4 linked regions of the Homo sapiens genome follow. The protein of the gene in region 1 purifies or fractionates together with the protein of each later gene. This does not show direct contact. Each region holds a gene or a part of one and is shown in the gene's direction. Other genes may lie near its edges. The genes, in order: ACAD9, NDUFS3, POF1B and TIMMDC1.

Region 1 (8,509 bases):
ACCTCTAAGAGGATGGTGTGTTTAATAACCTAGCTGTTACTATTGGCTGGGTTGTGAGACCTGTGGAAGTCACCCTGCAGCTAGATTTCTGCGGAACCTCAAAGGCGGGGGTAGGGCTAGGGCTCAGCTGGCAAGGAAGCCCACAGGCCACTAGAGGGTGACATGGGAGCGGCATGGCCTGAGATGTTTAAGAATCAGAGAGGAAGCCTTGCACATTTTGGTGTCAAAACACCGGAGTCGAGGGTCACTCAGTAATCACTCACCTGGGTTTTCCCAAATTGTCCTGATACGAACGCTTGTCAAAACCGTTTCTGCCCAGGCACTCCCTTTCCTAGCCCCTGCCCCCAAATTAAGTTCTTCCCAAGGGAATGTAAGTGGAAGGAATCCGTGATTTCTGTCCGGTTTTTAAAAGATGGGATCGTTCTTCGCAGTCTCCTCTTCCCCCAGCTCTAGGCAGAGGCCTCTAGGCCCTTGGGGATGGTGGTGTAAGGTGGAAGGGGCAGGTCTTTGCAGCAGCATCTGCAGGAAAGCCTTTCTCCTACCTTTTGATGGTTTGGTGGTCTTTGGCTTGTAAAATAATCAGTCCAATCTCAGCCTCAGCTTTAATAGTAAGGGATCAAGCAGTAGTTTCTACTCAATGTTCCTCATACCCAGAGTCAAGGATTCTGCTATGCTAACACTAACATTATGGCTAAAGAATGTTCACTTTCTGTTAAGTTATGTTGTGAATCAGTTGTATTGATGTGAGGAGACATTCAGAACTACCATGAGGATATTTTAAACAGTTGTTAAATCAAGTTTAGCCTAAAGCTGCTTCCTTATATATTTTAAGTTCGGCTTATAGGTTTTCTGCACATTGTGAACTATAAGTGGAGGCATAAACAGACCGTAGCCTATACTTGTGCCAATCACAGAGTTTTTGCCAATCAAATGTAGCCAACTGTTCAAACCATGTTCAAATAAGGCAAGGCAGAGCTGTAACCAATCCAGCTGTTTCTGTACCTCACTTTCCTTTGCTGTCCATAAATCTTCCATTACATGGCTGTGCTGGAGTGTCTGAGCTTGCTCTGGCTCAGAAAGCTGCCTGATTTGAATCGATTGCTCAATTAAACTTTTTTTCTTTTGAGACAGAGTCTTGCTCTGTCGTCCAGGATGGAGTGCAGTGGTGCAATCTTGGCTCACTGCAACCTCCACCTCCCGGGTTCAAGTGATTCTCATGCCTCAGCCTACCGAGTGGCTGGGATTAGAGGCACTCACCACCATGCCCAGTAATTTTTGTATTTTTGGTAGAGACAGGGTTTCACAATGTTGGCCAGGCTGGTCTCGAACTCCTGACCTCAAGTGATCTGCCCACTTCATCCTCCCAAAGTGCTGGGATTACAGGTATGAGGCACTGCACCCGACCCGGCCAATTAAGCTCCTTTAAATTTAATTCAGCTGAAGTTTTTCTTTTAGTACACTGAACAGGGGAAACTGTTTAAAACAACATCATATTTCTCAGAGGCTAATACTTAAATATAAGATGGAAGGATCAAAGTGTAACTATTGTCATTTTTATCACTTGCTGTGCTAAGTGCTTTCATGTGGATTTACTTAAACCTTTTAAAAGTCCTGTGAGATAAAGGGTATCATACTCATATTTACAGATGAGGAAACTGAATTTAGAAACTAGTATAGTAGTGAAACAGCAAAACTCTTCTGCTATACTCTATTGGAGCAATTAGAAACTATGCCTTAACATTTTTCTAATTTTTGTTTTGTAAAATTCTGTGCCACTGGATTTCTCATTTGGTTGATTTAGGGAGACCTGTGTACACTAAACATTTGACACATTAACAGAGTACTTGACTGATTTGACTACATTTGTTTGGCAAAAAAGTACAGCAGCTCAAAATTGAAACAGTTTTTGCAACATATGTATATTTTTCTTTGTTTTACCTATGGGGATAATTTACAAAGGCAGTTGTTTCCAAATACCTTCTTGTGAAGCTGAATGCTAAGCAAGTAAATATCAACCACTGATGAAGAAACCAGGTGAGAGACCTTAGACAAGGTAAAATAATCTGAAAAGATGCCTGCAAATATTTTGCAGTTTAGACTCTACGCCTTGCAGAGTTTTGAGCTCTTTTTTCTTGATGTTGTGTTAGCAATGTAATCTTTTTTGGTGCTGAGCTTAGCTTGCTGAGATGAAAGGGATTTCTTTTTCTTCTCAAGGAGTTGACACAATGGAAGCTGGAGGCATTTCCCAACACTGTGGTCAATGCTACAGTCGGGGAACAAGCAAGTCTCCCCCAAAACAGGGATCGGAGTTTTTAAGGATAATTTGGCGAGTAGGAGCTCGGGAAGTGGGGAGTGCTGACTGGTTGGGTTGGAGATGGAATGATAGGGGGTTGAAGTGAGTTTTTCTTGCTGTCTTCTGTTCCTAGGTGGGATTGCAAAACTTGTTGAGCCAGATTACCGGTCTGGGTGAAAAAGCAGAGTGGCATTCTTCCTGGAGGAGCTGGCTGAAGATCTGTAGAGGGCCCATGTGCCACGTTCAGAGCACTGTTGGGCTGTGAGGTGCCAGGCATGCCCTGCCTCCTACGTGGGCCCCTATGGCCTGGCCTTGAAACCGCCACTGCAAAATTATAACCGAGACAATGAAAGAGATCTGACCTAACCAACTCCATCTTGCTTCTAACCTCCAAGCTGTCCTTGTTCATTCCTGAGCGTAGGCTGAACTAACCTTGGGAAGGAATGAGTTTATAGTTTAACTTCAAAACAAAAATAGCCCTTTCCCGGGAAAACAACAACAACAACAACAAAAAACAACCTCTTCTTGCCTGGGACCAGTTGGCCTTTGGAGGACTAACAAATTAGCTATAAGATTAGAAATTACAGTTTAGAGGCCATACAGCCTTTGGTTGCAAGAGTCTGAACGTCCCCCAAATTGTTCCTGGGAATAACATCACTGTTGTAAAACCTACCAACACCCAGACTGGTAATCTGGCTCAACTAGTTCTGCAATCCCATTCAGGAACAGAAGACAGCAAGAAAAACTCACTTCGGCCCCCTATCAGTCCATCTCCAACCCGACCAATCATGCACCTCCCACTTCCCGAGCTTCTACTCGCCAAATTATCCTTAAAAATTCCGATCCGTTTTTGGGGAGACCGATTTGGCTAATAAAACTCCCTTTCCAACACACCCGGCTCTGCGTGAATTACTCTCTCTCTATTGCAATTTCCGTCTTGATAAATCAGCTGTCTAGTCAGCGGGCTGTAACCTTGGGCGGTTACAGCCTGGCCTGTCCCATCCCATCCAATAGTTCCCATCTCTTCTCAGCTCTCTCTGTAGTTTCTCTTCCTCCGCCTGCCTTTTAAGTTAGTGTTTCCCAGGACAGAGGTGACTCAGTTGTATCCAGACCGCTCTGTGACTGAACACCCACTTTCTTTTCCTTTTCCAAAAAATATATGTAACATACATGTCAACTAGGAACAAAACAGTATCTCAGGAATCCACCATCCAGTTAAAAATGGACCCTTACCCTTACCGTGCCCCTGCAGAGACCCCAATACAGCGCATTTCCCTCATTCTTTTGCTTTTCTCAAGTTTTACCACGGCCTCGTGGCCACAAGTGACAAAAGAGACAAGTGGAGGCAGCTGAGCCGGCCTTTAGGTTTCTGTACACAGGGAGATTTCCCATGGCTGGCATTTATGGAAACAACCGCTGGTATGTGAAAAACAGGTCCGTCACCGCCGTCACGACGGCCAGAGATTATACCCGCCGAGATGCCCGCGGCCCAGGGCCTACAATTTCCTCCGGCCAGCTCCTTTGGCCGCGCAAGCGCAGTGGGGCCGGCGGGAAGCGTAGGCGTGTGACGTCATCAGGCGGCGCGGGCCAGCCAGGTGCACGTGACTAAGGCCTTGGGCGCGGCAGGTGGTAGCCTTCCCGCCCTTCTGGCCTCTCCATCCCCTGCTGCGGGGGACCGCGCAAGCGCAGTGAGTACTGCACGTTGTCGCGGGCCAGTAACGTCATCAGACGTGTGTGTGTCCCTGCGGCGCTAAGAAGGGGAGACTGAGGCTGAGGCTGGGGAACATCGGGCAGCATGAGCGGCTGCGGGCTCTTCCTGCGCACCACGGCTGCGGCTCGTGCCTGCCGGGGTCTGGTGGTCTCTACCGCGAACCGGCGGCTACTGCGCACCAGCCCGCCTGTACGAGCTTTCGCCAAAGAGCTTTTCCTAGGCAAAATCAAGAAGGTAACGCGAGCCCTGGGCGAACCCTTGCTGTCTGGCTCCCGCTTTTCACCCTCAGCTGCAAGACTGGTGTTGAACTTTGTGAGATTCCCCAAACCTGCCAGAGAGATACACCCTGCGGCCGAGGCGTGTTAACACTCCGGATTCCTGAGTTCCAGGAAAACCTTCCCAGAGAAAGGGTGAGACATTTCCAAGACGGGGGACCCTTGGAAATGTGGTGGTGACGTGTTCCAGCTAAATTTTGTCAGGGGAATTCGGAAAACTCTAGGCTAGGTAATTAACAAAGCAGCCTTCATCTCAGCTGGTCTGGTCTGGAAATGTGCGGGGCTTCCTCTCTGATTCCTAAACAGCTTACACCATGTCCCTCCTCAGTCACCTTCCAGCGCCCTGGGGCTTCCTTCCCCAGGTGAGCCCAGCGCCTCTCCCTGCCATTGAGGTTCCTCAGAAATCTGGCTCCAAGATGCTTCCCAAGGGTGGCACAACCCAGCCAATAGTAACAGTTTGGTTATAAAACACTCATTGTCTTCTTAGAGTTGGAAGACTTGGGTTTGGTCTTGGCTCGTTGACTTTGAAACTCAGTTGTTTTTTTTGAGACAGAGTCGCGCTCTTGTCGCCCAGGCTGGAGTGCTCACTGCAACCTCCCTCCTGGGTTCAAGCGATTCTCCTGCCTCAGCCTCCGGAGTAGCTGGGATTACAGGCGCCTGCCCGGCTTTTTTTTTTTTTGTATTTTTAGCAGAGACGGGGTTTCACCATGTTGGCCAAGCTGGTCTAGAACTGACCTCGGGTGATCCGCCCACCTCGGCCTCCCACAGTGCTGGGATTACAGGGGTGAGCCACCGCGCCCGGCCAAGACTCAGTTCTTTCAGCCTTAAAATGGAGATAGTGTTGTGTCTCCTTCACAGATGTGTTGTAGAGCCCCAGTGAGATAAACGGTGCATGGAGAGTCTTCTTAAACTGTAGAGTACTGTGCAGCAGAAGAGAGAGCTGGCTTCAACACTTAGTCTTGTGACCTTGGAGCTGACGGCTGCACCTCCCTGTGCCTCAGTGCATTCATCTACAAAATAGGAATAAACACATTTCTTGCTCTTTCCTTTGTATTTCATTTTATCTTCTAAGGAAACCAACAGTATACTTGCTATTTCGTCGAGGTGCCCTACTTTGAACTTGGCTGAATGTTGGCTGATCCTGTATCACAGAAGTTATTCCCTGGCTTCTCTTTGGAACGTTCCTCTGAGGTTGTCAGGCTGATACCTTTATAGCAAGCAACTTTACAGATGAAGAAGCTAAGACTCAGACTAAAAGCAGTTTGCCCAGCTAGAAAGTGCGGAGCTATGTCTTGAACATATTGGAAAACCTTTTACCCAGGACCTGGGGCAGTGTGGTGCTCTATCCTGGGACTTCCTGCTATCCAGCAGCATGGTGAAGAAAGAACACAGATCTTTCAGATCTGTTTCCATCTTTAAACCTCTGGCACTACCTGCCCTGCCCTGCCTTTACTCTCAGCTGTCAGCTTTGCTTCCCATTCCACTGGGAAAATCCATGCAGTCGGATGAGAAGTTCACAGGCACAGTTACCCCCTCCCGCTGCATATGTGCCGGTATTATCTACATTCTGTTACTGTGAACTGTCTGCTCCTGGCAAAACCAACCTCTCATTAGACTCCAGGTCTTCTCACCTACTCAAGGGTAATTCTTTCCTTTCTCTGCATCATTAACTGTTCTCTCTACTGGATCTTGAGCCCTTACCATTCAGGCATTTGTCCCTAATGGCCATAGAAGTCAGTAATGACCTCTCTGTTATCAAATTGTGTGATCTGTTCTCAGACCTCATCCTACTTGACCCATCATTGGCATCTGACACCGTTCATCCTTCCACCCTGTTGACGCACTTTCGTCTCTGGTTTCTGAATCACTGTTCTCGCCATTCTCTGAATGTTCTAAATACTTCACTGGCTGATACTTCTCTGTGTCCATTGCTGGTTCTTATTCAGCTCCTTGACCGCTAAACAGTGACCAGTGTTTCCAACTAGCCAAGTTGGAATTTACTAAGGCTGGGTCTCGTTTCATCTACAGCCATCTGCTGGGTGACCTTATTTAGTGTCCTGGCTTTAAATATCATCAATATCCTGATGCCTCAAGTTTCTTTCTTCAGTTCAGATTTCTCCCTGAACTCCAGATTCCTTTTGCTTTTTCAGAGTTGGGGGCTTTCTCTGTCACCTGTGCTGGAGTGCAGTGGTGCCATCATAGCTCACTGCAACCTTGAACTCCTAAGGCTCAATAGATCCTCCCACTTCAGCATCCCCAGTAGCTGGGACTACAGGCACGCCCTGCCACACCCAGCCAAGATTCTTTTTTTAATCTACCTTTGTACTCAAAAGCTGTACTAAGAGGTCTAACAGGCATTTGAGATTAATAGATCCCAAACTGAGTTCCTGGTTCCCACCCAATCCTGCTCCTTCCACCAGCCTTCTTTATCATAGATAATGGTGGCTCTGTTGTTCCACCTGTTCAAACAGAACACCTGGAGTCACCTTGTACTCTTATTCTCCTAGTCCACTTCTAATTCCACAGAAGATCTGGTTTTCTCTACTTTTAGGTTCTTAGAATCTGACCACTTTTAGGCCCTTCTGCTGCTACTTTGGATCAGGCCAGTGTCATCTCTCACAGCCTTACTGGGATTAGAGCAGAAACATGGGACATGATGCTTAGAATCTCAGATTGTGTAGGCCAGTGGTTGTCACCCTGCCCTAAGCTGGACCCAAGCTATTCATGGAGTGTCCTGGAACTGCTGCAGGGATGGGTGGGAAGTTGAGTGGGTGGGATTTGGGTGCCTGTTTTCCCTATCAGCAGTCTCAGTCAGAGCCGCCTGCTTCTGTCTGTTTTACATATTTGGTTTCTGCACTAGATTTCTTTGAATAACAGGTTCCACTTTTTTAGATAATTTACAAACTGTTTATTGCAATTGAACTCTCCTCCCCTAAGGCATTGACCTGATTTGATAACATCAGGATCTTTCTCCCACGCCCCTGCAATCTCTCCTGTGTGGCAGGTTTTCTGTGGTTGTACCTGAAGGCCAATTAGTTGCCAGGCAGTCTTATCTGGCCTGCCCACTGGTACCAGAATGATCTCTAACACAGCCCATTGCACAAGACCCAAGTGTCAGTGAGCCTCTGTGTTCAGTGAAGGAGACTGAGCTTTGATATAAAAGGCTGCAGAGTGATGGAGCCATCAGCTTGTTTTTTTTTTTTTTTCTTGTTTTTTTTTTCCTTGAGACAGTGTCTTACTCTGTTGCCCACCCTGGAGTGCAGTGGTGCAATCACAGCTCACTGCAGCCTCAACCTCCCCAGGCTCAGGGGATCCTCCCACCTCAGCCTCCTGAGTAGCTGGAACTACAGGCGTGTGCAACCACGCCCAGGCTGGTTTTGAACTCCTGGGCTTTAAGCAATCCCCCTGCGTCAGCTTCCCAAAGGACTAGGATTACAGGCAGTAGCCACTGCAACCAGCTAAGCTTGTTTTTTTCTTTTTCTTTTCTTTTTTTTTTATGGAGTCTCACTCTGTCACCTAGGCTGGAGTGCAATGGCGCAATCTCGGCTCACTGCAACCTCCACCTCCCGGGTTCAAGCAATTCTCCTGCCTCAGCCTCCTGAGTAGCTGGGATTACAGGCGCGTGCTACCAAGCCCGTGTAATTTTTGTATTTTTAGTAGAAACGGGGTTTCACCATGTTGGTCAGGCTGGTCTCAAACTCCTGACCTCGTGATCCGCCCGCCTCGGCCTCCCAAAGTGCTGGGATTACAGGCGTGAGCCACCGTGCCTGGCCTCCAACCTTTTTTTTTTTCTATACCACCTTCAGGGTGGTTTTGGAATGGATGGAGGCAGGGATTCCTTTAAGTTGGCTGTCACTTTTAGTTAGGGACTCACCTATAAGCCTGTGGTCCTGGGCCCAGAGAGGAGAAAGCAGTGCGAGCATATTGATAGAGTAGAGAAATCTGTTGGCTGATTAGCTGTACAAGGTCTGAGGAGAAGGTTGAGGTCTCCCCAAGACTTCTCTAGAACACTTGGTGAGAGGCGCCATGAGGACAGGTGATGCTTGGGCTTATAGCTCTGACTCAGGACATCACTGCTCAACAGCCTGAAGCCCACATCCAAAGCTCATGTCATGCTGGCAATTGAAGGGGTAGCAGAGCCCAAAAGTCCAGAGGGGCTCAGCACAGGGAGCAGATGTCTGTGAGCAGGAGAGACAGCGGCTGTAGGGATCGATGAGACTTGGTAAGCAT
Region 2 (5,314 bases), on another chromosome or scaffold:
AGCTTTCATTTTCTTACCGGGAAAATAAATATAAAGCTGTCCTTATCTTATAGAATGGTTATAAGGATCCAATGAGATAGTTCAAGTAAATTGCTTGCACACAGTGTTTTCAATACATTTAGCTATTAATATTTTACTGATTATCTACTGTTTGCCAGACTCTGGGATGGAGAGAGAAATAACATGAAGTATTTGTCCTCCAGGAGTCCCCTACACTCTAGTGAAGGAGAAAGACACCTAAACAGCTTACTGTAGTAACATATAATACAAAGGATATTAGAGGGATGCTTTAAGAAAGCAGGAGGGGCACTTGGCCCTGTCTGGGAGGCTTCTTTGAAAAGAGAGAATGTTTGTGCTGAATCTAAAATATGAGTAGGAGACCAGGTAGCCTTGTGAGATGGACCAGGGAAATATTCCTGACAAAGTGAATAGCATGAGCAAACACAGGCATGCTGACATGCTAAGCTACAGCTGTGGCCTGGGCCTTTGGAAGTAGTTGTAAGCATAGGAGAATCTTGAGGTTTTGAGGTTCAGAATAGAAGGCAGGGTCACAGGGCAGAACTCTCCCAATCAGGGACTCCCATCTCAGCCCTCCAGATCCTTCTGTTCTCCCTAGATTGTCTACAACCTGTTGTCTCTGCGCTTCAACTCACGGATCCGTGTGAAGACCTACACAGATGAGCTGACGCCCATTGAGTCTGCTGTCTCTGTGTTCAAGGCAGCCAACTGGTATGAAAGGGAGGTGAGTTACCGGATATGGTGGACCTGCCTCTGGGCCACAGTTGCAGAACTGGTTCAGACTACGGGATGCAGTGTAGCCCCTTCCCCCTGTTGTTAGTCTTGATGGATTGGCTGTTTGAGGTGGTCTCTTTCCTAGATCTGGGACATGTTTGGAGTCTTCTTTGCTAACCACCCTGATCTAAGAAGGATCCTGACAGATTATGGCTTCGAGGGACATCCTTTCCGGAAAGACTTTCCTCTATCTGGCTATGTTGAGGTAGGAGCCTTGGAACTGGGACAGCAGCCTCAGGGAGGGACTTGCAGAGAACCCAGGGGATCCCTGGGAATGGCAAGAAATACGGTCTGTGGATTGTGGTGGTTTAAGAGCATGGGCCCTGGATTCAGATCCTAGCTTCATTTTTGTAACCTGGGGCAAGTTACTTGGTTTGACTGTAACTCAGTTTTCTCATCTTAAAATGGCAATAATAATAGCACTTTAATAGATTTGTGGCTGGCATTAAATAATGTATGTGTAGGCTCACGCCTGTAATCCCAGCACTTTGGGAAGCCAAGACAGGAGGAGTGCTTGAGTCCAGGAGTTCGAGAACAGCCTAGGCAACATGGTGAAACCTCTTCTCTACAAAAAAATAGAAAAATTAACGGGGCATGGTGGTGCATTCCTGTGGTCCTGGCTGCTCAAGAGGCTGAGGTGGGAGGATCGCTTGAGCCTAGAAGGCGGAGGTTGCAGTGAGCCGAGATCACGCCACTGCTCTCCAGCCTGGGCAACAGAGTGAGACCCTGTCTCTAAATAAATAAATGATGTATGAAGCCTGCTGTATTGTAAAGGCTCAATTGATGCTGTGTGTGTGTGTGTGTGTCAGGGTCTCACTCTTGTCACCTAGGATGGAGTGCAGTGGTGCGATCATGGCTCACTGCAGTCTTGACCGCCCAGGCTCAAGTAATCCTCCCACCTCTCAGCCCTCCGAGTAGCTGGGACTACAGGCATGCACCAACATGCCCAGCAAATTTTTGTATTTTTTGTAGAGACGGGGTTTCTCCATGTTGCCCAAACTGGTCTCGAATTCCTGGGCTCAAGTCATCTGCCCGCCTCAGCTTCTCAAAAGTGCTGGGATTACAGGTGTGAGCCACCACACCTGGCCAGTGTTATCCATTATTGTAATGATCATTTTAATGATCAAGGCAGCCTTGACGACACAGTCTGTCCCTAAAACCTGAAAGTAGAGGATTATTTTACCCTGCCCTGACTCTCTGGGAAGGCAGTGACGGGGAAGACACCAGATGCTTAGCCCTCAAAAATTACCTCTGAGGTGGGACCAGTAACGTGAATAAAGAATTTCAGTGGTGCTGCAGGTTATTTGCAGGAAGATAGTGTGTAATATTATCACTCGTGAATTTTATAGCAAAGTAACTGTTTAGAAATGCAGAGATGTGGTGCTCCAGCCCTGCTCTTTTAGTTCCCAGTCACTCCTGCTGTGTTAGTGCTTTGCATGCTCCTATTTCCCTCTTGGGCTACTTCTGGGCAGGGCTATCTCCCTCGCTTCTCCCTTTCACCCCACTCCTGCTATCTGCCTCACCTGGTTTGCCTCTTCACTCTAGCACCTGATGATCCTTACCTTATCCATTTGATCCCCAAGTAACAAGAAAAGCTGTGTCAAATGTACTGCTTTAGATCTGGACTGTGAATATGCCAAGGGCACCGGGCCTGAGGTTGTGTATCTGCCAGTTTAGGTTTACTCTTTTCAGCCACCGACTACTCCCTAATCCTGGGCAAATGCTTACCATTACCTTGTAAGAGTGTGTGGGTGGGTGAGCAGTCAGTTCGGAGCTCCTGATGTGGGAGTGGTGAGCAGGGGAATCTGACTGGTGCTGGCAGGGCATGAGAGGTATCCTACATTTTGGAATCACACACTCTAGCTGGTTGGGATGTGATCTGACGGGTAACACAGGTATGGATGGAGACTTACTGACAGAGGCTGGGACAGGAGTCAGTAACCGAGAGGAATGGGCTGGGGAAGTCACCAATAGCCTTGTGAAAAGTAGGCTCCTGTGTAGCTATAATAAGGACTTCCTTAGTGCTCAAGCCTGCCTTTTGCTCCTGCAGTTACGTTATGATGATGAAGTGAAGCGGGTGGTGGCAGAGCCGGTGGAGTTGGCCCAAGAGTTCCGCAAATTTGACCTGAACAGCCCCTGGGAGGCTTTCCCAGTCTATCGCCAACCCCCGGAGAGTCTCAAGCTTGAAGCCGGAGACAAGAAGCCTGATGCCAAGTAGCTCCAGGGAACGCATGTGGATCCTAGACAGCGCCTTATCTATGATTGAGTGTCCGTGTAAATAAATTCCTACTTAGACTTACCACTTTGTGTGTGCTTGTAATGTGGAGAAGTGATGCTTTGGGGGGGACACAGGCAGGCAGGGGTGTTTCCCTGCTCTCTTAGAGAGGCACTACTAAACCAGGGAGTCTTTGATGGGTTTTTTTTTTTTTTTTTGAGACAGTGTTTCGCTCTTGTTGCCGAGGCTGGAGTACAATGGCGTGATCTCGGCTCACCACAACCTCCGCCTCCTGGGTTCAAGTAATTCTCTTGCCTCAGCCTCCCGAGTAGCTGGGATTACAGGTGTGTGCCACCACACCTGGCTAATTTTGTATTTTTAGTAAAGACGGGGTTTCTCCATATTGGTCAGGCTGTTCTTGAACTCCTGACCTCAGGTGATCTGTCTGCTTCGGCCTCCCAAAGTGCTGGAATTATAGGCGTGAGCCACTGTGACCAGCTCTTTTATGTTTTTTTGAGATGGAGTCTCGCTCTGTCACCCAGGCTGGAGTGCAGTGGTGCTGTCGCAGCTCGCTGCAACCTCCACCTCCCAGGCCCAAGCGGTTCTCCCCCCTCAGCCTCCCAAGAAGCTGGGATTACAGATGCACGCCACCACGCCCAGCTAGTTTTTATAGTTTTTGTAGAGATGGGATTTCACCATGTTGCCCAGGCTGGTCTCGAACTCCTGGCCTCAAATGATCCACACTGGCCTCCCAAAGTGCTGGGATTATAGGCGTGAGCCACCACACTCAGCCGGAGGTCTATTTTAATGGGACTAAAGAGTGTAGTTGCAGACGTGGTGGCCTGCAGGCATGGATGTATTTCTGAGAGGGATTCTGGAGCTGTAACTGAAAGTTCTCACAGTCCACAGGGTTCAGGATGGGTGTGGCATGGTAGCCAATCACTCTTGGGCTACAGGAATCTCCCTGGTTTCTGGCCTGAGCTGAGAATGGTGGGGTTCTTTTTTTCTTCTTCTTTTTTTTTTTTTTTTGAGATGGAGTTTTGCTATTGTTGCACAGGCTGGAGTGCAATGGCATGATCTTGGTTCACTGTGACCGCCGCCTCCCGGGTTCAAGCAACTCTGCCTCAGCCTCCCGAGTAGCTGGGATTACAGGCTTGCGCCACCACGCCCGGCCAATTTTGTATTTTTAGTAGAGATGGGGTTTCTCCATGTTGGTCAGGCTGGTCTCAAACTCCCGACCTCAGGTGATCTGCCCGCCTCGGCCTCCCAGAGTGCTGGGATTACAGGCGTGAGCCACCGCGCCAGGCTGGTGGGGGTTTTTTGAGACAGGGTCTTGGTCTGTCACCTAGGCTAGAGTGAGTACAGCAGTGTGATCGTGGTTCACTGCAGTCTAGACTGCCTGGGCTCAGGTGATCCTCCCACCTCAGCCTCCTGAGTAGCTAGGACCACAGGTGTGTACCACCATACCCAGCTAATTTATTTGTAGAGATGAGGGCTCACCATGTTGCCCAGGCTGGTCTTGAACTCCTGGGCTCAAGCCATCCTCCTGTCTTGCCCTCCTAAAGTGCTGGGATTACAGGCATGAGCCACCGTGCCCGCTCTGAATTAAGAATGTTGCTAGGAAACAAGAGGTCCCAGGGCTGGGGCAAAAACCACTCAGGAGCTGCAGATTTGTCTGTCTGCCAGGGGACAATACGCCCTAGCCCAGCTGATCTGTCTGTCCAGCCTGCGGCAGAGTGCCTGAGAGGGGAGTGCTTGGCTCTGCCTGTCTGTGGGGCCGCCCAGCCAGCCCACCATGCAGTTGGAAGACTTTGCAGCTGATGCTTTTGGCAGCTGAGGGGCTCCTTGGAGGCTGGGCTGGGCCAGACTGGGTGTCGGGGCTGGCCTCAGTCGCAGGATATTTTGAGGGCGCAGACAGTAAGATGGTCTTACTGCCTGAGCTCTTTCCTACCCTTTGGGAGGGCCAAGCTACAGCTATTTGCTACCAAACACCTTTTTCCTATTAACTAAGCATACCGCCCAGCTGGGCAGGAACAGGCTGAGGGCCTGACAAGCAGGGAGCCAGGCTCCTGCCAACAACCAAAGATTCCCCATTTCTAAAGGATGGAAAGAGCCCCTGGGAGGTGACCGAGGCCACAGCCAGCCCCTCCCTGTTCAGCACTGAAGAATGACACGCATTACAGAGCTCTGGAGCAGCCCGCAGTGGAAAGTTGGAGCTGAGGTGTGTGGCAGGCAGATGAGGGAGCAGAGAACTGCTGAACAGAGTGAGACTCAGAGGACGTGGTTGAGCATGGCTGCGACCCTGCA
Region 3 (9,325 bases), on another chromosome or scaffold:
ATCTGCAAAGTTAAAATAATCTGACTCATTGGAGGTAAATTCCCCCTTTTTCATAATTATAAAGCATACTCTGAATTTCCATTCAAATATAATAACTTGAAAACATTTTTCTCCAAAAAATTAATTTTTTTCCATTTTCTATTTTAATTGGTGTTCTTGGTGCCATCAGCTAGATACATTCAGAATGCTTTCCACACATTGAATAATGCCTTGAGGACTTTGGAGTAGTTTTGTTGTTTCTGGGTTATGATGAACATATTTAGACTCTAATTTAAAAATTTACCACTCGCTGGGATTAACGAGGACTCTTTGTAGATTGGAGGAAAACATTAAAACATTTCAGAGGGTTGTGCTTCATTTCATGTATAGTTAGTCCATCAAAATGTCTCTTTCAATGAAGGTTTTAGAAGTTTCAATCATTTCCTATCCCGTATTTTCTTAACTTTTAAGAATTCTGCTTTATTAAGCAAGTACAAATGAAACAAGTGCTTATTTAAATCTTCCAAGGTAAGCAAGTCTTTGTATTATGTGACTGTTAAGTTTTTGCAATTCTGAATCATAATAAATAATTTATGCTTCTAGTCACTGGAAAATGACAAGATGAGACTTGAGAAAGATTTATCATTCAAAGACACTCAATTAAAAGAGTACGAAGAACTCTTGGCATCAGTGAGAGCAAATAATCACCAGCAGCAGGTAAACTGATGCTTTTATTGGTGTTAATCTACATTGATAGCTTTTCATATGCACAATTACTGGCACATTGGAGTTATGAGATATAATCAAGACAGAATTAAATATGATGGAAAAATTTGTTCATATGAGAATTGAGTGGCTTTGGGTATTTCTAATGGCTGAAAGCCCTCTCAGAAAAACAGATAATCTTATCTATTTTAGATATAAAGTACATATGGGACACAATTATTTGTCTTGTTGGGTGACCAGAATTGTAGAAATACTAAAAATCTAGGTTCATGCATTTATTTAATGTACTAACATGTCAATGAGAAAAGCTGTTGTAGACCTTAATACATGTTTGTGCAATAAATAAATGACTGAAAAAACTCTAGATGAATTCTCTGGATGTCTGAGCAGAGAGAATTCCTAGGAAATTGTAAGTAGTCTCTAAGGATTACCCTCTTCCTGATCTTTACTCCTATGGCTGTCCCAAATTCTTGCTCAGTTACTAGTTGTCATGTAAATAATCAGGCATATGGTCGTTTCTGTGCCTACTAGAAAGCAGGGTACAGTATTGTCACAGAGTAGCAAGAGTCTGATTGTTAAATTGAGACATTATAAATTCATCTAGTCATGATTCCCTCTCTCACAAAATAGATGAGTGAGACTAGAGGCAACACTATAATATCTTACATGGGTGACTTAATGTACCATCTAAGACCCAGAGTATAAGAAAACTGGGCATAGGAAAATATTTACTTGATTCAATTGAATGAATCAATAAAAAGAACACTCCCTCACCAAAAACAAAATGCATTTGTCTTATGTACTTGTGTCTTCTTTACAGCAAGGACTTCAAGACTCAAGTTCAAAATGCCAGGCATTGGAAGAAAACAATCTCTCTCTTCGACATACACTATCAGACATGGAATACAGACTAAAAGAACTGGAATATTGTAAACGTAATTTAGAGCAAGAGAATCAAAACCTTAGAATGCAGGTATTAAAACTTCCTTTTAAATATACAGTATTACCTTAGTTACATCATTGTAATCCTAGCATTTAGAAAACATATGGACTGCTTTCCCTCACATACTGTTAGATCTTAATCACTGACATTTGAGCTTTATAATGCAGTTCCTGAAAATCACTTTCATTATTTCAATGTCTTATTTAATCATGTGGTTTTCATCTAATAACAATCCTTGTAACATAACATGTATTTTCTTCAAAACAATCCAATTACAGATAGTTATTTTGCCTTCTGTAGGTTTCTGAGACTTGCACAGGCCCAATGTTGCAGGCTAAAATGGATGAGATTGGCAACCACTACACGGAGATGGTAAAAAACTTGAGAATGGAGAAAGATAGAGAGATCTGCAGACTGAGGGTATGTTGATCCTACATTGCATAAATACACAGGTCAGCACAAACTTTCTAGCAAGATAATGATGGCTTCAAGTTTAAAGCTACCAGAAAAAATTAGCTGAAGGTAGAGTTTTAGAAATATGTCATGTATTCATTTGTTTTAAATACATTACTGTATCTAAAATATAACTGTTAAATGATTTTCTAATTTAGCTTAATTTCTTCTAGGAAAGTAAAAGAAGATATTCATTTCAGTGGTTTGGTTTTGGTTTTTATTAATTTATTTTTTGGGATAGATGGAGGACTCTTCATGATCTTGCCTAAAGCATGCTTATGTAGGCAAAAGCAATATATGAAATTACTCAACAGAGCCATAGTTAGATTTGTAAAAATTCTCACTTAATTTCGAGGGATGATGAATAGCAAGGACTTTGTCAAGCATGAGGAGGAAAACAGTGTTAAGTTTTAGGTACCTATAGTTGACATCAAAATTAAGGTGATATTTATAAGTATATATTGCCTTAACTTGTAATTCTAGGTTGAATTTACTTAATCTAACCCTTATTTTACTGATTCCTAAAGGTAGTAAAATATACTTAAATATTTTAATAAACAAAATAATCACAAATTTGTCTCTCCAAACATCACTGTATAATTTTTACCAAAAATCAAAATGAAACAAAATATAATTTGTTTTCCAAACCTACCAATACTTCTAGCAGATTTCCTCCACTGATTTCTTTTCCATTCCAACATTACTAACAGCACTTCTACCTAAGCTACACACATATGAGGTAAAGAGGGAAATGGACAAGATTTGTAGTCAGAAGACCTGTTTTGGAGTTGCAGCTATGTTACTGCGTGACTGTGTCATTTAACCTCTCTGGAGCCCATTATCTGTTTTGTAAATGAAGATTATAATAATGCTTATTTCATGGGACTGCTGTGAGAACTGAGATAATTCATGCAGGAGGAATATTTTGTGAACTGAAAATCAGAATATAATAGTAGTAATTTGTTATTGCTATTTCCTTAATTATTATTTCAAGGACTCTAAAGTGCCTGTTTTCTTAGCTTTACTTTAAATTTTGTGGCCTAAGACTGTTACGTAGATAATGTTTAGTCCTACATAGCAAAGACACCTTAAAAAAAGGAGAAATTTGTAATTGGCATTTCATTTCATATTACATACTCATGAAATTCTTCGAACGTTTATGACTATTGGTATTTTACTTTCATTTCATAACTGTGTGAGTTTGTGTCACTTAACCTCCCTGGAACTCAGTTACACATTTTCTATATGAAGATTATAATAATATTTATTTCTTTTTAAATCCTTAGTCCCAATTAAACCAGTACCATAAAGATGTTTCAAAGAGAGAAGGAAGTTGTAGTGACTTCCAATTTAAGCTTCATGAACTGACAAGCTTGCTGGAAGAGAAGGATTCCCTCATAAAGCGTCAGTCAGAGGTATAAAAGGAAGGGGTGGGGATGGAGAAAAGTAATACAACTTAGTACTGTAGTACTGTAGGATAAATACTTCCCATGGACTAGAAAAGGACACATATCCAAGAGTCACTTTATTTAATGAAATAAAATGTAGGTGCAAGTGAGGAAGTAGAATATACATATTTCAGGAGACACAATTCAAATGAAAGTTACAATTGAAGCAAAAAATAAGTGCTGTTATACATTTAATATTTTTAAGACATTGATTTTATATTTCATTAGCAGTGAAATTCCCAGTAGACTGTGACCTCCTTACTACATTATGAGCTGCTTCATTAAAGCATGTGTTATATTCCTCCTTGTATCTGTAGCATGTAGCCCATGACCTGGCATTCAATAGGTACTGAAGGAATTGTCAAAAATTATGGGTAATATTGTATTGCTGTTATGGAGCAAATGGTGCTTGTAGTAACATTCATTGATAAACTCTCTCTTAAGAAACTATATCTGCTTATATATTGAAGTTTCAATACTTTTCTTCTATGGATATACTTTTCAGGCTTTTCAGAGCAAAAACTTTCACATCCTCATCCTGAGAACCACGCCCATTCAATCTCAAGTTATCCTCCAAATTTAGATATCCTGTATCAGTTGCAGGTTCCTGCACCGGCATATAATATAACTTATTAGGTACTGTGAAGCAACACTAGGTGATATTCAACAAGTGGGATTAGAACATTATTACGTCAAGGCTAAAAAGGGGTAAAAGGGAGGGGGTATAATCATTGTTAGTAACCCTTCTAAATGATTAAATATATTTATTATCTCATGTTTCTACTTTCCATCAAATGATTATATTATCTTTTATTTGTAAGGAACTCTCCAAGTTGCGGCAAGAAATATATTCCTCTCATAACCAACCCTCCACTGGTGGAAGGACTACTATTACCACTAAAAAGTAATGTATTTTTAAATGAAATTTGAATATAAAAATTATGATCATATAATCCAAGTTATTTCATGTTTAATTGGTATATACAAGCTAGACAGAGTTTGGTGTTTTCTGCTGGCCAGTTATTCTACTGAAGAATGAATATTCACAAAAAGACATCACTATTGTGGTCAAAAAAATCCTGAAGCACATCTTTCCTGAATTTACAATATATTAATTACCTTGGAAGTGAAAAACAAATAATTGTTTTTTTAACCAACCACATTAGTTAGGACTCTTTCTGTTTCATGTGACAAGAGACCCAATGTAAACTGGGACTTTTTAAATTCACTTAAATGGGGTTACTTGGTATCCAGATGGATTTGTGTGTTCAAAATATGCCTTTATAAATATGTCTTTCTTTATATCTTGGCTCTGCTCTTTCCTGTGTAGACATCTTAATCAGGTAAGGTCTACCCTCACGGTAGCAATATGACCACAAATTACATTCCAGCCATTTAGCAAAACCAAATATAAAGTAATTATGAATAGCTTCAGCAGAAGTCTATTTTGGATATTTCATATAAATGAAATAATACAACATATAGTCTTTTGTGTCTGGATTTTTCATTTTGCATAATGTTTGCAGGATGCAAGCATGATTTAGCATGAGTCAAGACTTCATTCCTTTTGGTTGCTAAATAATATCCAGTTGTATGGATATACATTTTATTTATTGATTAATCAGTTGGACATTTGGGTTGTTTTCAATTTTTGGCTATTGTGAATAATGCTGCTGTGAACGTCTGTGTACAAGTGTGTAAGGTACATGTATTCATTTCTTTTGAGTATATACCTAGGAGTGGAATTGATAGGTCACATGATAACTCTATGCTTAAGGAATTGCCATACTGTTTTCTAAAGCAAAAGCACCATCATACATTCCTAGTAGTGTATGACGGTTCCACTTTCTCCCCATCCTCGTTGCCATTTGTTATTGTTCATCTCTTGGATTATGGCCATCCTAGGTGGTGGAAAGTGGTATCCAATTGGAGTTTTGATTTGTATTCCCTAATAACTAATGTTTTTTAGCAATTTTTATGTGCTTATTGGCCATTTATACATCTTGTTTGAAGAAATGTCCATTCAATTTTTTTCCATTTTTTAAGTGAGTTGTCTTTTTATAGTTGAATTGCAAGAGATTTTCACATGTTCACAAGTCCCTTATCAGAGACAAGATTTGCAAATATTTTCATCAATTCCATGGGTTGTCTTTTCACTATCTTGAGAGTATAATATGCAGCATAAGTATTTAATATAGAAAAAAATCCAATTCATCTATATTTTTTCTTGCTTGTGCTTTTGGTATTATATACAAGAAACTGTTGACTAACCCAAGATCATAAATTTTACATTCATAAGTATTTTGTCTTATATTAATATAAACTGTCTTCTGGTTACTAATTGTATGAAATATCTTTTTCTGTCCTTTCATTTTTGACCTATTTGTGTATTTGATTCTAAACTGTGACTCTTGTAAACCACACATGGTTGTATCTTTTTATACATTCTGCCAATCTCTGCTTTTAGCTGGAATATTTAATGCACTTACATTTAATGTAATTCATAAGTTAGAATTTACATTAGCTATTTTGCTATTTGTTTCTATGTCTTATGTTTTTTGTTCTTCTGTTCCTCCATTCCTGCCTTCTTCTGTGTAAAATATTTTCTACAGTAACATTTTAATTCCATTTTAGTTACTTTTACTATATTTTCTGAGTTTTTCCCCTTAGGTTTCCCCCAGAAATTTAATTAATATTTACCTGTATAGTTACCTTTACTGGTGATCTTTATTTCTTCAAATGGATTTGGGATGCTGTATAGAGTCCTTAAATTTCAGCCTGAAGGACTCCTTTAGTATTTCTTGTAGGACTCCCTTTAGTATTTCTTGTAGAACAGGTTTTGCAGTGACAAATTCTTTGGGTTTTTGCTTGTATGGGAATATATTGCTTTTCCTTCATTTTTGAAGAATGGTTTTGCTGGATAAAATAATTCTCAGCTGACAGTGTTTTTTTGTTACTTGGAATATGTCATCCCATTGCCTTCTGGCCTCTATAATTTCTGATGAGAAATCAGTTGATAATTTTTAATTGAGGATCCCCCTGACATGTTTCTTTTTTACTGCTTTCAAGATTATTTTTTTCTATGGCCCTTGACTGTTTGATTATTATGTGTCAAGGTTTGGATCTCTTATTTTTCACTATTTGGCATTTGCTGAGCTTCTTTGATGTGCAGATTGATATTTTTAATCAAATCTGGGAAGTTTTCAGACATTTCTTCAGCTATCATTCCTGCCACTTTCCTCCCTCTCCTTGTGGAGTCCCCATAAACAGAACAGAATGTTCTGAGGCTCTGTTTATTTTTCTTCATTCTTTTTTCTTTCTGTTCCTCAGAATAGATAAACTCAACGGACCTTCTTTGCAATTTGTTGATTCTTTCTTCCATTTGCTTACATCGGCTGTTGAGAAATTTAAATCTAGTTATTATCTTTTTTACCTCAGAATTACTGTAGTTTCTCTTAAAAGTAATTTCTCTTTCTTTAATAATGTTCTTTATTCCATAAGCCACAACTCTCATCCTTTCCTTTAGTTCTTTAGTTCTTTGAGCATACTTAAAATAGCCAATTTAAAGGCTATGTAAATGCAACATCTGGCTTCTTAATGGATAGTTTCAAGTGATTTTTTCCATGATAGGCAATATTTTCTTGTTTCTTTGCATGTCTTATAATTTTTTATTGAAAACGTGACATTGAAAATAATATAATGTGGTAACTCTGGAAATTAGATACTCCCTCCTGCCAAGGTGTTCATTGTTGCTATTATTTGCTGTTGATGTTATTGTCTTTTGCTTAGTGGCTTTTCTGATTTAATTCTATAAAGTCTGTATTCTTTTCATATGTGGTCACTGAAGTCTCTGCTCATTTATCTTAGTGGTCAGTTAACATTTAAACAGAGGTTTCGTTACAAACATGAAACTAGTAAGTCTCCTAGTTTTCACTGAGAGGCTCTTTGTCTGTGTTTGGACACCTCTTCAATGTTCTGGTAGGCAATTTATAGCTCGTCCTTAGCCCCCAGTTCCTGCTTACACAGAGTTTTAAGGTTAGCCAGTACTGAGGGCTCAGGATTTTCTCAGGTCTTTCCTTCACATGCGTACAGCCTTGGGCATGTACAAAGCCCTACACATGCCTGTGGCTTTCTAGATTCCCAGGAACATATAACAAATTTTCAAAGCCCACTATGGACAATTTATTTCTCAGTTTTTCCTTTTATCATTTTTGGTCAATTTCTTGTCTGCCTGAACTATTATAGCCACCTCAGGTAGTTGTGATATTAAACAATTTCCACACATTATTTTCGACAAATGTTCCCAGGAAAAAGGATTTGCAAATTGGTTGAGCTACGAGTCAAGTTTTAAAAGGCATCCTTGCAAGTGGAGTTTTCCACAGAATCAACAGACAAATCAAACAATGACAATTATAACGACAATGTGGCTTTGAAGGAGCTCTAACCTTGTTTTGTCTTCTAGTTGCTGCCAGGCTCCTGGGTTTTACCCAGATTGTTTTAAGGGTCGGGCGCGGTGGCTCACGCCTGTAATCCCAGCACTTTGGGAGGCCGAGGTGGATGGATCACGAGGTCAGGAGATTGAGACCATCCTGGCTAACATGGTGAAACCCCGTCTCTACTAAAAATACAAAAAAAAAATTAGCCAGGCGTGGTGGCGGGCACCTGTAGTCCCAGCTACTCGGGAGGCTGAGGTAGGAGAATGGTGTGAAAACAGGAGGTGGAGGCTGGGCGCGGTGGCTCACGCCTGTAATCCCAGCACTTTGGGAGGCCGAGGCGGGCGGATCACGAGGTCAGGAGATCGAGACCATCCTGGCTAACACGGTGAAACCCGGTCTCTACTAAAAATACAAAAAATTAGCCAGGCGTGGTAGCGGGCGCCTGTAGTCCCAGCTACTCGGGAGGCTGAGGCAGGAGAATGGCGTGAACCCGGGAGGCGGAGCTTGCAGTGAGCCGAGATCGAGCCACTGCACTCCAGCCTGGGCGACAGAGCGAGACTCCGTCTCAAAAAAAAAAAAAAAAGAAAACAGGAGGTGGAGCTTGCAGTGAGCCAAGATCGCACCACTGCACTACAGCCTGGGTGACTGAGCAAGACTCCGTCTCAAAAAAAAAAAAAAAAAAGAAAAAAAAAGATTGTTTTAAAATTCTATTGCATAGTTGGAGAGACAGAGATGAGAATAGAACAATTTCAAATGCCACAAATCTTGCTGATTTAGCTGTTTTTCCTAAATAAATGCTCTCTGATGGCTGTAAAAGTTTATTAATTTTGAGAGTCCTGATAAAGTTAATTTTGATTTTTTTTGGCCAGATTTCCTTTTTCTTTTATGGCATAGAGCATTTCTGGAGGTTGTTGTATATTTTCACTGACATCGTCTTCCATTGCTTCCTTAAGCATGGTTTTTTTTTTAGTTCTTTGTATTCTCACTATGTTGCCCAGGCTGGCCTCAAATTCCTGGTCTCAAGCAATCATCCCATGATGACCTCTCAAAGTGTTGGGGTTACAGGCATGAGCCACTGAGCCCAGCCCTATAAACATATTTATTATAGCTACTTTGAAGTCTTTATCTTCTAAATACACCATCTGGTCCTCTTTGAAAGTAGTTTCTGGAGAGAGGGACAAGATGGCCAAGTAGACACATCCAGGAAGTACTTCTCCCACCACAAAAGACCAAAATATCTAATAAACAAACCAGCAAATTCTCCACTATCTGTTTGTACTTCAAACAGATCTTTGGAGAGAAAACACTGAGATTTGATAGGTAACACAGATACTAAGGCT
Region 4 (9,325 bases), 9.4 Mb from region 1:
TGATGAAAAATGTTGTGGTGGTAGCATTTGGGTTAATTCTGATTATAGAGTCTCTTGGAGAGCAATGTCCATAAACTAATCCCAAACAACATTGTCTTTTTGATGTTGTAGTGAACAGCAGAGAATTTCAAAGGACCTTGCTAATATCTGTAAGACGGCAGCTACAGCAGGCATCATTGGCTGGGTGTATGGGGGAATACCAGCTTTTATTCATGCTAAACAACAATACATTGAGCAGAGCCAGGCAGAAATTTATCATAACCGGTTTGATGCTGTGGTATGTACTGGTGATCTAAAGAAATTTGGGGCACACTGACTTAGTAATTCACTTTACACTTAATCATTCAATTAGGTTGTGGGGATGGAGGGTTGTTTTAAGGTGTCAGAGTAAAGAAATAAAGTCTGTACTTAATAACAGTGGAAGTACTAATGTTAAAGTGCCTGCATGTTGTTTGAGAGACTACTTTGTTATCTTCAGAACAGGCATGTTTGGCATCACCACTGTGGCTTTTCTTTCTCAAATACATTTCTTCCAATCCCCTGCTAAATCGTCAAGGCTCAGCTGTAACATATTTACCTCATTCACAAAGCCTCCATGAGTATAGGAGCTCACACTAAAGCAATAGTTAACATTTATAACTTTATAGAGTGCTAACTCGTTTGTTACATCATTAGATCTGTACATCAGTTCTTTTGTGAGAATATTAAAGCTCAGAGAATTTTTAACTTTTTATTTTGAAATTATAGCAGGCTTGAAAGTTGCAAAACTAGTACAAAGATTTCCTATATACCTTTCATCCGGATTCTCCATTGTTAACATTTTACCATGTTTGTTTTATCATTCTCCCTCTGTATAATATGTACTAATTTGTTCTGAGCTACTTGACAGTAGGTTATAGACATGATGAATACTTCAGTGTGTTATTTCCTAAAAACAAGGAAATTCTCTTATACAACCACAATTATAATATCAAGATCAGGAAATTAACACAGATATAGTACTATTATCTTATTTAAAGACCTGTAAATTTTGCTAGTTATCCCACAGTATCATTTATTTTAAAAATAAATAAAAAAATGTATTTTTCAGAAGTTAGGCTTGAGTTCTTATTAAAAAATTAATTAATTAAATTTTTTTTTGTCTGGTCCAGAATCTGACCCTGGATCACATGTTGAATTTGCCTGTTATGCTGCTTTGGTCTCATTTAGTCTGGAAGAGTTTCTCTGTTTTTGTCTTTCATGGCCTTGACTATGGGTGATTTATTTTGTAGAATGTCCCTCAATTTGGGTTTGTTTGATGGTTTCTCATGACTGCATTCAGACTATGTTTTTTGACAGGAATACCCTAGAACTGAAATTAAATTAGAAACCCATGATATCTCTGTCCCTTTACTGGTGATGTTTACTTCAGTGACTTGCTTAAGATGGCCTCTGCCAACTATACACTGTAAAATTACTATGTTTTTCCTTGGTAATTTATAAGTATTTTGAGTACTTGTTAGTTCCTTTGAGACTATGTAAATATCCTGCTTTTCATCAAATTTCTACTACTTAAATGCTATTATAAACTATAATATTTCTACTATCTAAAAACTATTCTAAATTCTTAGCATTTATAATTTTTTTATTTTTTTAAAAATTATTTATTCCTTTATTTATTTTTTGAGACAGGGTCTCACTCTGTTGCCCAGGCTGGAGTACAGTGGCACAATCTTGGCTTGCTGCAACCTCCATTTCCCAGGCTCACTCGATTCTCCTGTCTCAGCCTCCCAAGTAGCTGGGACTATAGGCATGTGCCACCATTCCCAGCTAATTTTTGTATTTTTTGTAGAGACAGGGTTTTGCCATGTTGCCCAGGCTGGTCTCAGAGTCCTCAGCTCAAGCAGTTCACCCCCTCCTTGGCCTCCCAAAGGGTTGGGATTATAGGTGTGAGCCACTGTGCCCAGCCTATTTTTATTTTTTAATTAATTAATTTTTTTTTTGAAATTTTTTGAGGCAGGGTCTTCCTGCCTCAGTGCAGGCTGGAGTGCAGCGGCGCGATCATAGCTCACCACAACCTCAAACTTCTGGACTCAAGGTTTCCTCCCGCCTCAGCCTTCCGAGTAGCTAGGACTGCAAACACACACCACCATGCCTAGCTAATTCTTAAATTTTTTTTGTAAAGGCAGGATCTCGCTATGTTGCCCAGGCTGGTCTTAAACTTGTCGGCTCAAGTGATCCTCCCTAGTTGCCTCCCAAAGTGCTGAGATTACAGGTGTGAGCCACCATACCCAGGCAGTTTTAGCATTTAATGATGATTCTTCCTGTAACAATTATGACTGTGGTGGCCAAATGGGCATTTTCTAAAGTCTATCATTCTTTCTACATTTATTGGTTAGTATTATGCTCTAAGGAAGTGTTTTCCCTTCCCCCCTCTATTTACATATTTATTTATCTATTTATAATTTATTTCTATCAGTAGGGACTCATGGATTCTTATTTTATTCTGTAGATTTATAATTCATTACAGGTTGAGCAGCACAAATCTGAAATCCTGAATGCTCAGATTCAAAACTTTTTGAGCATTGACACGTCATTCAAAGGAATTGCTCATTGGAGCATTTCAGATTTCGGTTTTTTGGATTTGGGATGCTCAACCAGTAAGTGTTAAAAGCGCATATTCCCAAATCTGAAAAAATCCTAAATCCAAGTATCAGATAAGGGATCTGGTCTCAAGTATCAGATAAGGGATACTCAACCATTTTTTCATCTCCTGATAGGATAGGCTACACATGGAACTTTTACGTAAGCCTCAATACTTAAAGAATAGTATTTCTAGAGATTTTCTAGTATTTCTATCTGTTTGGGTGTACCTGACTAATCCATAGCTAAAATTCCTCTACCGCAGTTCTAGAATAAGGAAAATATGATGGTGTCTTAGAACCTCACAGTTTTTTAATTAACTTTAGCAATCTGCACATCGTGCTGCCACACGAGGCTTCATTCGTTATGGCTGGCGCTGGGGTTGGAGAACTGCAGTGTTTGTGACTATATTCAAGTAAGTTCACTCTGAATTGTGAGATAGTGAATTTTCTTGATATTGTTTTAGGAGTGTGTCTTTTGAGCAGGTGGGGTTATGAAAACTGAATACCCACATGAAAGTGATTAATAATGCCTTTTTTTTTTTTTCAAGAACTTTTCTCTGTGTAAAAGACTGGTGTAGTTATGGTTTTACAACCATGTCTGGAACACATTGAAGGGGCCTAGGCTAGGAACAGGGATTGATATAGTAGGCTTTTCTAAATCTATTAAGTCAGTGAAAATAACACTCAAGAAGGTAAATGGGATATGCTTTAAATCTTATATTTTCCTTCTCCTCCCTTTTTACCAGCACAGTGAACACTAGTCTGAATGTATACCGAAATAAAGATGCCTTAAGCCATTTTGTAATTGCAGGAGGTAAGACATTTTTGTTTATATTTTTCAGTCTTCTCAAATACAGTTTAGAAAATGTGTAAGGACTTATACATCAGAACTACTGAATTCTTTGGTTGGCTTCCCATTACATCTCATCAACATTGATGCAAAATGTATTTATGGACAGTGTTGTGCTTCACCCTTGATATACTCAATGGGCAAAACAGCAAGGCCCTTGCTTTCTTTGAATTTTAATGTCTAATATGTATGTGATAATACAGGTTGTTGTGATAGAAAGTAACAATTCGGTGGAACAATGGGATCTCATATGGACAGGGTAGTCAAAGAAGGCCTTTCTGAGGAAGTGACATTTGAGCTGATACCAAAGAATAGGAAGGAGCAAGACTTGCAAGGAAGGGTGTCCTAAATAGAGGGAACATCAAGGGGGAAGGCTCTAAGGCAAAACATTTCCTTAAAAGCAGGATAATAACGTGGTGAGTGAGGGAAAGAGTAGCTTGAGATGAGATTGGTGAGGACTATAGGAATGGACTAGATTTTTTATGGTAAGAACTTGGATTTTATTTTAAAGCTCTCTGCCTCTAGTATATATATGTATATTTTCTTTTTAATGAGCATTAAAAATAGAAGGTACAATGGTGATTACCAGAGACTGGATATGGGGTTGGAAAAGATGTTGGTCAAAGGATACAAAATTTCATTTAGACAGGAGGAATAAGTTCAAGAGATCTATTTAAAACATGGTAACTATGGTTACTAACAGTGTATTGTATACTTCAAAATTGCTTTTAAAAAGTAGATTTTGGCCAAGCGGTGGCTCACACCTGTAATCCCAGCACTTTGGGAGGCCAAGGCAGGTGGATCATCAGAGGTGATTTGAGACCAGCCTGGCTAACATGGTGAAACCCCGTCTCTACTAAAAATACAAAAATTAGCTGGGTGTGGTGGCAGGTGCCTGTAATCCCAGCTACTTGGGAGGCTGAGGCAGGAGAATCACTTGAACCCAGGAGGCAGAGGTTGCAGTGAGCTGAGTTCACGCCATTGCACTCCAACCTGGGCAACAAGAGTGAAACTCTTGTCTCAAAAAAAAAAAAAAAAAGTAGATTTTAAGTGTTCTCACCACAAAAAATAGTATGTGAAGTAACGTGTAGGTTAATTAGCTTAATTTAGCCATTCCCCAATATATACATACTGCAAAACATGTTATACACCATATGTGTACAATTTTTACTTGTCAGATTTAAAAAATAATTTTAAAATGAGCATTCGTTTCAGAAAGGTAAGTTAACTGCTATATACACTCAATCACTAACTTGTGTACATTCTTTTATGTACAACACACATATGTATTCTGAACATAAGTTTGTTTTTGTTTTTTTTTTTGAGATGGAGTTTTGCTCTTGTTGCCCAGGCTGGAGTACAATGGCGCGATCTCAGCTCACCACAACCTCCGCCTCCCAGGTTCAAGGGATTCTCTCCTGCCTCAGCCTCCCTAGTAGCTGGGATTACAGGCATGCGCCACCATTCCCAGCTAATTTTTTGTATTTTTAGCAGAGAAGGGGTTTCTCCATGTTGGTCAGGCTGGTCTCGAACTCCCGACCTCAGGTGATCCGCCCATCTCGGCCTCTCAGAGTGCTGGGATTACAGGCGTAAGCTACCACGCCCGGCCTGAACATAACAGTTTTTAAATGTTTTTTTGGGAATAAGCTTACAAAAGATTGCAAAATAAAAATAATACAAAGGGCAGTCTCTATCCTTCACATACAGAGACTTAGCCATTGTTAACAATTCATGCTGAGAATTTATCCGAAATTAAGTCAGACAACTTGCTTTATCTTCTTGCTACTGCATGCACTCTCCCTCTTCTCTGTGTATATGTGTACACACATGGGAAAACACACAATTTGAACTTTTTTTTTTAACTTTTAACTTCAGGGGTACATGTACAGGATGTGTAAGTTTGTTACTTAGGTAAACGCGTGTCATGGAGATTTGCTATACAGATTCTTTCATCACCCAAGTATTAAGCCTAGTATCTTAGTTGTTTTTCCTGATCCTCAAACAACATTTTAATGAAAACTTTTTAAAATACAAAACTAGAAATAGGCATTAATAGCGTTAGAGCAGCCAGATTGTTTCATTTTTAAATTTGCAAGCATTTTTACATGGGTCTTGTCTACCCACTTTTACTTCCTTACTTGCTCCTGCTGTTACGTTCTCTGTCAATTGTTAAATGTGAAAACCAGGCCAGGCACAGTGGCTCACGCCTGTAACCAGCACTTTGGGAGGCCAAGGTGGGCAGATCGCTTGAGTATAGGAGTTTGAGAACAGCCTGGGCAACAAACATGGCAAGACCGTGTGTGTGCAAAAAGTTATCTGGGCATGGTGATTCATGCCTGTAGGCTCAGCTACTCAGGAGGCTGAGGTGGGAGGATGGCATGAGCCCAGGAGGTCGAGGCTACAGTGAGGTGTGATCATGCCACCTCATTCCAGCCTGGGCGACAGAGCGAGACCCTGTCTCAAAAAAAAAAAAAAAACTAGAAACCAAGGAATGATATGGTTCTGCTCTTTTTTCTCTTTCCACTTCTTGTCCTATTAATTATACTCATTAAATATATATGGATTCTTTCACTTCTTTTTTCCCACTGCTACTATCTTATCGTCCCTGTTTCTAATCTTGATGTGCTCTACCTGTAACCTAGTTACATTTTTGAAATATGAATATGATTTTGCCACTTTTCTGTTTGAAATTCTTCTATAGTTTCCTGTCACTTTAATGTCAATTCTTGATCTGGCTTCCATGCGCCACTCTTTTGCTTTCACTTTACAATCTCCTCGGATTTCCCAACATGTTCTTTCCTTTTGTGAATCAGTCCCTCTTCTTGAATGCACTTTCCCACTACCACAATTAATTTTGTTCGGCTCCTACTTAACCTTACCTTTCAAAGTCCAGATCATTTGTCAGCCTCAGCTTCCCTAGAGAGTTCTCCCTAGCCATTTTCTCCCTAGCCATGTTTAGTTCTATTTAGCTGTCTTTCCCTTGTGTTCACATACTTCACTGTTTTTTTCTTTATCTTTGATTTTCTGCAGTTTGAAAATGATATGCCCAGGTGTAATTTTGAGGAACATTTACTGTGCTTGGTGTTTTCTGAACTTTCTGGATCTGTGGTTTGTTGTCTGACTTAATTTAGGATAAATTCTCAGTGATTGTTTCAAAGATTTCTTTAGCTTTCTCTTCTCCTTCTGGTGTTCTAGTACACTTATACCTTTTGTAATTGTTTCACAGTTCTTGGATATTTTATTCTGTGTTTGTTTGTTTGTTTGTTTTTGGTGGAGGAGGTTCCCATCTTTTTTCTCTTTGTCTTTCGGTTTGGGAAGTGTCTGTTGATAATGTCTTCAAGCTCAGGGATTCTTTCCTCAGCTGTGTCCAGTCTACTATTCTTCAGTTCTGTTACAGTGGGTTTTTAAATTTGTTTTATCGCTAGCATTTCTTTTTGATTCTCTCTTCGAATTTCCATCTCTCTGCTTATATTGCCCATCTATTCTTGCATGCTATCTACTTTATCCATTAGAGCCCTTAGTGTATTAGTCATAGTTGCTTTAATCTCTTCATATGGTAAGTCCAGTATCCCCACCATATCTGAGTCTGGTTTTGGTGCTTACTCTCTTAGTTTTACTTGGTCTCTTCAAACTGCTTTTGCCTTTTAGGATGCCTTGTAATTTTTTTTCTTGATAGCTGGACATGATGTACCTGGGTAAAAAAGGAATTATGGTAAATAGGTCTTTAGTAATTTGGTATTAAGATGTGGGAGAGGGAAAGTGTTTTGCAGTCCTATGATTAGGTTCTTAGTCTTTTAGTGAGCCTGTGCTTCTGAACTGTTAACTTCACAAGTGCTTTTCAGTTTTTTTCCTCTCCTTTGGTGGGACAGGATACTACAGTGGGTTGGAATGGGTATTTCCTTTCTCCCACATGGGAGGCTAGAGCAGTTGCATTTGGATATTCCCCAGGCTGGTTAATCTCTGACAAAACCCCAATAGTTTGGGCTGTGCAAAACCATTTATCTTGAGGGCAGGCCTTAGTGAGAATAACGGAATGTTCTGGCATATTTCAAAATGGTTACTTTTCTTCCCCCTTGCCAGAAGCCTGAGGGGATTTTTCTCAGATCTTTACTGGGAGAACTTGGTAGAGCTCCTGGAGTGTGGGGACCCTCTATGATTGGCTCCCCTACAGTTTTTAGGTCTTAGACTTTTCTACACTGAACTTCCAGCAATTTATCATTTATAGTCAAGGTTTCCTACTCTGGTACTGGTTTCCATGGAGGCTTCTGCTCGTGGGTTTCTGCTCTAATAAGGTGTGATTCTCTGTATTTATCTGTCTGTCTCTCCTATTTTGAGGGCAGCAGTTTACCCATGATCTCACTTCTTTGGTGGATCTAAGAAGAGTTGTCAGTTTTTCCATTTGTTTAGCTTTTTACTTGTTGTTAGGAATAAGTGATAAACTCTAAACTTCTCACATGCCATACCAGAAACTGGAAGTCTCCCTTTCCTTTTTGCCCCACATCTTGACAAGCTGATAAGAAAGCCCAAGTGCTACCTTGGTTGACACCAGCAGGAAGTTTCAACCATGCAAGCTCAGGCCTACATGAGGGAGCTCTTGCTCTAGCCCCACCTTCTAAAACCACAAGCCAGTCAGTCAGCCTTCAGGTTCTCAAGTCATTTTGGGACATGCTTGGGATCTTGCCTTGCTCTCCCTGGAAAGCCTTATTATATGTGTAATAAACCTTTTGGTATCCTCTTAGTACCTCTTGGTACTTTGGCATTTCAATATCTGATTCAAATTTTGGGTGGGGGAGTTTATTGTCTCTGGAGGGTAACCACAACATCTTGCAAGTAGAAAATCCAAATGAATTAAGAAAACCATTGGAAGGCCAGGTGTGGTGGCTTATGCCTGTAATCCCAGCGATTTGGGAGGCTGAGGCAGGCAGATCTCTTGAGGTTGGGAGTTTGAGACCAGCCTGGCCAACATGGTGAAACCTCGCCTCCACTAAAAATACGAAAATTAGCTGGGCATGGTGGTGCACATCTGTAATCCCGGCTACTTGGGAGGCTGAGGCAGGAAAATGGCGTGAACCTGGGAGGCAGAGCTTGCAGTGAGCTGAGATCGCGCCACTGCACTCCAGCCTGGGCTACAGAGTGAGACTCCATCTCAAAAAAAAAAGTTAAGTATAATTTACTGTGCAACTCAGCAATTCCATGTCTTAGAATCTGCCCAAGATAAATGAAAACATGTCCACGCAAAGACTTATATATAAATTTTTATAGTGGTGTTATTCTCGACAGCCTCAAACTGAACCCATAAATTCATCAACTAGTGAATGGATAAATAAAATATGATATGTCCATTCACTTGAATATTTTCATCAGTAAAAAACTGATACATGCTGCGACATGAATAAAACTCAAAAACATTAAGTGAAAAAAGCTAGACACAAAAGACTTCATATTGTATAATTCTATTCATATGAAATGTCCAGAATAAGCAGATCTGTAGAGTTAGAAAGTACATTAGTGGATTGAGGTGAGATTGGGAACCAGGAGTAACCACAAATGGGCGTGGGGGATCTTTTTGTAATGATGGAATCATTTAAAAATTGGATTTTGGTGATGATTATATAGCAATGCAACTAAATTTTTTTTTTTTTTTTTGAGACGGAATCTTGCTCTGTCGCTCAGGCTGGAGTGCAGTGGTGCGATCTCGGCTCGCTGCAACCTCCACCTTCCGGGTTCAAGGGATTCTCCTGCCTCAGCCTCCTGAGTAGCTGGGACTACAGGCATATGCCACCATACCCGGCTAATTTTTGTATTTTTAGCAGAGACAGGGTTTCACCATGTTAGCCAGGATGGTCTCAAT

Evidence for each region.
Region 2: the proteins of ACAD9 (region 1) and NDUFS3 purify together in Homo sapiens (affinity purification with mass spectrometry; 4 studies listed by BioGRID and IntAct, with this or other methods). This does not show direct contact.
Region 3: the proteins of ACAD9 (region 1) and POF1B purify together in Homo sapiens (affinity purification with mass spectrometry; 2 studies listed by BioGRID and IntAct, with this or other methods). This does not show direct contact.
Region 4: the proteins of ACAD9 (region 1) and TIMMDC1 purify together in Homo sapiens (affinity purification with mass spectrometry; 5 studies listed by BioGRID and IntAct, with this or other methods). This does not show direct contact.

The regions. Positions count from the first base shown.
Region 1 is NC_000003.12:128,875,604-128,884,112, forward strand, and holds the start of ACAD9 (complex I assembly factor ACAD9, mitochondrial), read left to right. Parts: upstream 1-4,016; 5' UTR 4,017-4,088; coding exon 4,089-4,238; exon of another isoform or gene 4,239-4,414; intron 4,415-4,487; exon of another isoform or gene 4,488-4,508; intron 4,509-8,509. UniProt on the Homo sapiens protein: As part of the MCIA complex, primarily participates in the assembly of the mitochondrial complex I and therefore plays a role in oxidative phosphorylation.
Region 2 is NC_000011.10:47,581,472-47,586,785, forward strand, and holds the end of NDUFS3 (NADH dehydrogenase [ubiquinone] iron-sulfur protein 3, mitochondrial precursor), read left to right. Parts: intron 1-616; coding exon 617-742; intron 743-877; coding exon 878-997; intron 998-2,842; coding exon 2,843-3,010; 3' UTR 3,011-3,091; downstream 3,092-5,314. Other genes in the region: protein FAM180B isoform 1 precursor, read left to right, coding at 5,298-5,314. UniProt on the Homo sapiens protein: Core subunit of the mitochondrial membrane respiratory chain NADH dehydrogenase (Complex I) which catalyzes electron transfer from NADH through the respiratory chain, using ubiquinone as an electron acceptor.
Region 3 is NC_000023.11:85,298,534-85,307,858, reverse strand, and holds part of POF1B (protein POF1B), read left to right. Parts: intron 1-582; coding exon 583-696; intron 697-1,525; coding exon 1,526-1,678; intron 1,679-1,948; coding exon 1,949-2,068; intron 2,069-3,387; coding exon 3,388-3,516; intron 3,517-4,370; coding exon 4,371-4,453; intron 4,454-9,325. UniProt on the Homo sapiens protein: Plays a key role in the organization of epithelial monolayers by regulating the actin cytoskeleton. May be involved in ovary development.
Region 4 is NC_000003.12:119,500,584-119,509,908, forward strand, and holds part of TIMMDC1 (complex I assembly factor TIMMDC1, mitochondrial isoform 1 precursor), read left to right. Parts: intron 1-111; coding exon 112-277; intron 278-2,948; coding exon 2,949-3,037; intron 3,038-3,370; coding exon 3,371-3,438; intron 3,439-9,325.